Linked DNA regions of Homo sapiens: region 2 is linked to region 1. Evidence: fine-mapped expression QTL. Tissue or cell type: whole blood. Region 1 holds a variant in brackets; the other region holds the start of a gene. All regions are shown on one strand. Distances are from middle to middle.

Evidence for each region. PIP is the estimated chance that this variant, and not a neighbour inherited with it, causes the effect.
Region 2: HAL starts here. The variant in region 1 is fine-mapped to the expression of HAL in whole blood (TOPMed, PIP above 0.99).

The regions. Positions count from the first base shown.
Region 1 is chr12:96,036,167-96,038,926 of GRCh38, reverse strand. It overlaps a transcript of LTA4H not described here. Among named protein-coding and RNA genes, the nearest start is that of TRD-GTC2-8, 1.5 kb to the right of the region's middle. RefSeq lists enhancers at 2,582-2,631, 2,652-2,701. The variant G/C (reference allele first, on the strand shown) is at 1,385.
Region 2 is chr12:95,994,976-95,997,475 of GRCh38, reverse strand. HAL (histidine ammonia-lyase) reads left to right here and starts at 1,132. Exons shown (of 21, transcript NM_002108.4): 1 at 1,132-1,398; 2 at 1,485-1,812; 3 at 2,483-2,500. The coding sequence starts at 1,566. It overlaps LOC102723340 (a long non-coding RNA gene), which reads right to left and starts at 994. Exons shown (of 4, transcript XR_945237.4): 1 at 846-994. RefSeq lists an enhancer at 750-919.

The sequences.
Region 1 (2,760 bases):
TATTAATGGAGGAATTTATTTGTGGTTGTGTGTGGATATTTTTATTTAAACACAAGTGGCATAAACTCTGTGGGTTCCTGGTAATCAATAATAGAAGATGATGATAATGACGTTCTTATTAAAACAAACTATCCTTTCTCCATACTAGATAAATAAGATGATTTGACTGTGTATTATTTGACTAAATGAATTCTATGTTATCTATTGTATTTGTCACCCTAGATTTGGTGACCTCAAAAAATGTTTGCGGCTCTGTGTGGTGGCTCGTACCTGTAATCCCAGCACTTTGGAAGGCCAAGGCAGGTGGATCCCTTGAGCTCAGAAGTTTGAGACCAGCTTGGGCAACATGACAAAACCCCATCTCTAAAAAAATATAAAAATTAGCCAGGCGTGGTGGCGGGCGCCTGTAGTCCCAGCTACTTGGAGGCTGAGGCACGAGAATCGCTTGAGTCCAGGAGGTTGAATGTGCAGTTACCCATGATCATGCCACTGTATCCAGCCTGGGCAACAGGACATTTGCCAAAAAAATCCGAAAATGCAAATGTTGATGACAAATTCTTACACCCTATGAATTAGGACCTATGCATGTGTAAGGTATTAGATTTCATAGTTTGGGATTTTTTGGTTTTATTTTGTTTTCCTTTGGCTTGCAGGGGCCAACACAAGGATATCCAGAAATATAGCAGTTTTTTGTTGTTGTTGCTGGAGCTAAATTTCGTCACTTTTGATAGAGAATTGAACCATACCAGCATGCTAAACCCATCAACTATCCCTCACACCTCTGAAATCTTTACTTTCTTCTTCTCTACCTTTTTGCCTCTGAGTCGATCCTTCTGCAGAAACTTTCCTCTTCTCCAGAAGCCCTTTCACCTGTATATCTAAACATGTTAAAGTTTTCTCTTGCCTTAAAAAGCAAACATTAAAAAAATTCTTTCTCGGCCGGGCGCGGTGGCTCACGCCTGTAATCCCAGCACTTTGGGAGGCCGAGGTGGGTGGATCACGAGGTCAGGAGATGCAGACCATCCTGGCTAACACGGTGAAACCCCGTCTCTGCTAAAAATACACACACAAAAAATTAGTCGGTCTTGGTGACGGGCGCCTGTAGTCCTTGGAGGCTCAGGCAGGAGAACGGTGTGAACCCGGGAGGCGGAGCTTGTGTGAGCCGAGATTGCGCCACTGCACTCCAGCCTAGGCGACAGAGCGAGACTCCGTCTCAAAAAAAAAAAAAAAAAAAGCTTTCTCAATGCTGCATTCCTCTCTAGCTTCCCCTTTATCTTCCCTTCTCACATTGGCCAAGCAACTTGACAGTGGTTTATGCTTCACCTCCCTCTTCTCTTCATTGCTCAATCCACTACTCTCTGGCTTCCATCTTCAACCAAATCAC[G/C]ACAGTCAACAAAATCACCACCTTCCCCATTCTCACCCCACTGCCAAATCTAGAGAATTTTCACTTCTTACTTCGGTGGTCCTCGGGACTGCATCTGGCATTGTTGGTTGGCTCTTTCTGGTTTATTTCATGGGTTTCTCTTCCTCTAGCCCTTTTTAAAACAATAAATTCTGGTGTTCTCTCAGCTTCCAACCTGTTTTCATTACCCTTCTCTTTACACACTCTTCTTGGGTTGAGCTTACCCACTGTCATAATTTCATCCACCACGTTATGTGACGTGGTCATGTCTACCTGGCACTTCCCCAGAGCTGTGGACTTAAATATCCAAGTGACTCATGGACATCTCCACTTCCACTCCCATAGGTTCTCAAATTTCATATGTCCAAAATTGAATTTAGCATCTTCCCCTTAAATCTGTCTGATTTAGTTTGAATATATGTCCCTACCAAATCTCATGTTGAATTATAATCTCCAGTGTTGGAGGTAGGGCCTGGTGGGAGGTGTTTGGGTCACGGGGGCAGAGCCCTCATGGCCTGGTGCTGTCCTCGCCACAGTGTCTTGTGGGATCTGATTGTTTAAGTGTGTGGCACCGGCCCCGCAATCTCTTGCTCTTGCTCGGGCCATGTAGAGGCCTGCCCCTTCTTCACCTTCTGCCATGATTGTAAGCTTCCTGAGGCCTACCTGGAAGCATACTGGAGCTATGCTTCCTGTACAGCCTGCGTAACTGTAAACCAATTAAACCCCTTTTCTTCCCAGTCTCAGGTATTTATAGCAATGCAAGTACAGCCTAACATACTGTCCTCTTCATATAGACTACTACCTCTGGTTAATGACTAGCCAGCCACTGAAGCCGAAAGCCTGGGCCACCTTCGTCTCCTCTCAATCTGTGAATCCACTTATATAAGTATTCCTTCTATTCATTCCTTCCTCTCTATCCTAACTTACTACTTACCTATGTCAGGCCCCCAGCATCTTCTGATTGAGCCATTTTAATAGTTTCCTAAATCTCCTGCTAATGGTTTTGATACCGCATTTTATAACATGAGTCTGACCATGCTTTATCAGTCGCCTGCTGAAAACTCTTCAGTGGGTCCCCCATTAATGCACCCAGGATTAAAAGGCCACCTATTTAAGGTCCTTCGAAACCTAGCCTCTTCCAATTTTTCCAGTTTTAATTTTGAGGCCCCACCCTAAAGGCAAGGCATCCTTCAATCCTCCTTCACCTGCCACAAAGGCCCCAGAGCTGAGCTAGATGTCCCAGCTCTGTACTCCCATTGCGACCAGTGCATAACTTTTATAGAAATTCATTAGTTTCTAAGATGGGAATGTTGGCTTTCTCCGTTTGAGAGATGCAGGTTCTGGGGATATACATAATA
Region 2 (2,500 bases), 41 kb after region 1:
CGTGACAGATTCCAGGGTGATTTCTTAAGTGTGTCAAATTCAGGTCATGACAAATTCCAGGGTGCAGTCATGGTGTGGGTATCTGAAGAGCAAGTTTCAATAAGGCTCAAGGAAGGGTAGCTATTTGTACGCTTCCTGGGAAGCTGTCAGCAGATGAGAGGGACTCTGGGTATGAGTATAGGTGTTTTTCTTGAGCAACCATGTCTCTCTTCCCAACAGAAGTCTGATTTAGTGGAAACAGACTTTTCAGGATTTTTCTAGTGCAATAATCAAATCTCTAAAAATTGGCTTACGATGAAAGTGCTGCTTAGTCAAAATAGCATCTGCATATCTTTGATGCCGTAATCATGCTATCCAGAGTTCCTTAATACCAATGGTAATAAGGCGGGTGCAGGGAGCAGTTATCTGTGGTGAAGAAGCTTAATTGGGTGAGGGATATCCATGTGCCAAGATGAAAGAGCATTTATGGAACTTTATAGCTTTATGATTCATACAGAACATTTATAAAGCATTATAGTTACATGGAGTATTGGTGTCCAGATACTAGTAATCACAGACACTTCTATAATATTTCCACTATGCCAGGTGTTGTGTTGAGGGCTTTACATATATGAACTGACTTCATCCTCCCAATAGCCCTTTGACATATATACTATCATCATTACCATTATCTTCATTTTACAGATGAGGCAACTGAGGCCCAGAGAAGTCAAATCACTTGCCCACAAGTCATACACTTAGCAAATGGCAGAGCCAGGATTTGATCACAGGTAAATCCTGCACATACTGGAAGGAGGCAGTTAGCCCCTAGGCCTTCTGATAAGGAAATACAGGGTAATACTCACCTAATCAAGGCTAATAAGTAGTAGAGCTGGACTCTCATCCACGGCTGTCTGAGCCCCTAATCTCCAAGTCAGAGTGGTTCATTTGCCCAGATGACGACCTTTAGTTGTGAAAATGATCTCTGGCCTTTGCAGTCTTCCCTGGTGGAAAGAAAGCTTCAGAAAACCTTACTGGTGACAGGAAGTAGTTGCTCAATACATGTTTGTGGAATAAACAAATGAGTGACGATTGCCACACTCCCAGTGTCACAGTTGGCCCACAGAACACGTTTTACAGTTGAGTAATCTCAGATAAAGACAGGAACATGGTGTTTATAAGCTGCCCTTAATGGCAGAGAACACAGACAGAAACGAGGGAAGAGAGAGAAATTGGGGACCCTGAAGAAAGGGGGCCAGCAGCAGGTAGGTGCCATCAGGGACAAGAACAGCACCTCCCAGGGTGGGAGACCCCAGGCCTTTCTGGCAGCAGGTCTGGATGGAAAGTGGACAGGAGGCTCACCCGTCTGCATCCCCTGCTCCTGCCCCTGCTCGGCTACAAAAACCAAAGGGACAGCAGGTACCTCAATAAATATTTGTCCAATGCATGAATGAGTAAAGGTGAAGGAGGGGGAGTGGTTTGAAAGTCTATTCTCATCCTTCCAGCTGACCACACCCCGGTAGCCACTCCTGCATAAAGCTCTCCCCTCCTGTGACCAGCTGAGGACCTCAGGCTGCAGCGGAGCCATGCCCAGATACACGGTGCACGTACGTGGGGAATGGCTGGCAGTGCCCTGCCAGGACGCGCAGCTCACTGTGGGCTGGCTGGGCCGGGAGGCCGTGAGGCGCTATATCAAGAATAAGCCCGACAATGGTGGCTTCACCTCCGTGGATGACGCGCACTTCCTTGTGCGCCGGTGCAAGGGCCTGGGCCTGCTGGACAACGAGGACCGGCTCGAGGTGGCCCTAGAGAACAACGAGTTCGTGGAAGTGGGTGAGTGGCTGCAGGAGAGGGCCGCGAACGGGTGCGGTTTGGCCTGGCTTAGTCTTTGCAGCATTGAACCCCCACCTCAGGGAAAATGATGAGCAGAGGTCAGGCTTGCCGAGGCTGGCCCTGTGCAGGCACATGCCACGCCTCTGGGGATCTTAAGTCCTCACACAACCCTGTGAGATGGGTAGGATTCTCCTCCACCTCTGATGGAGGAGAAATCAGAGAGGAGGTAACTTACCCAGACTCCAGCAGCTAGTAAGTAACAAAGACTAGACTGGTACTCAAGGCTGCAGGTCTGAATCCCTTTGCAGTGACTGAATCATTTTGAGGTTATTTTGCCTTTCGAAAGAATCCACCCCCACCCCCAGACTGGAGGCCGGCAGCATAGCATCAGTTCAGATTTTGAAGAAAATAAAGCTGGGAATGGGGATGGAAGTGGAATTCTGTCTTGAACTTTCATCTAAACCCCTGGTCTCTGCCCTGACACCTACCTTTCTGCTTTTTGCTCTCCTCCTACATAAAGATGCTAAGACCACATGAAACCATCTGAAGCAGTTTTAAAGCAGCCATTTCTATAGAATTCATGGGCCAATGATGGGCCGTTCCTTGGTTTAACAGGGGGAACATGGCTGTACAATGTGATCTGTAACGAGTCTCCCGTGCATTGTTTTAGTTATAGAGGGTGATGCCA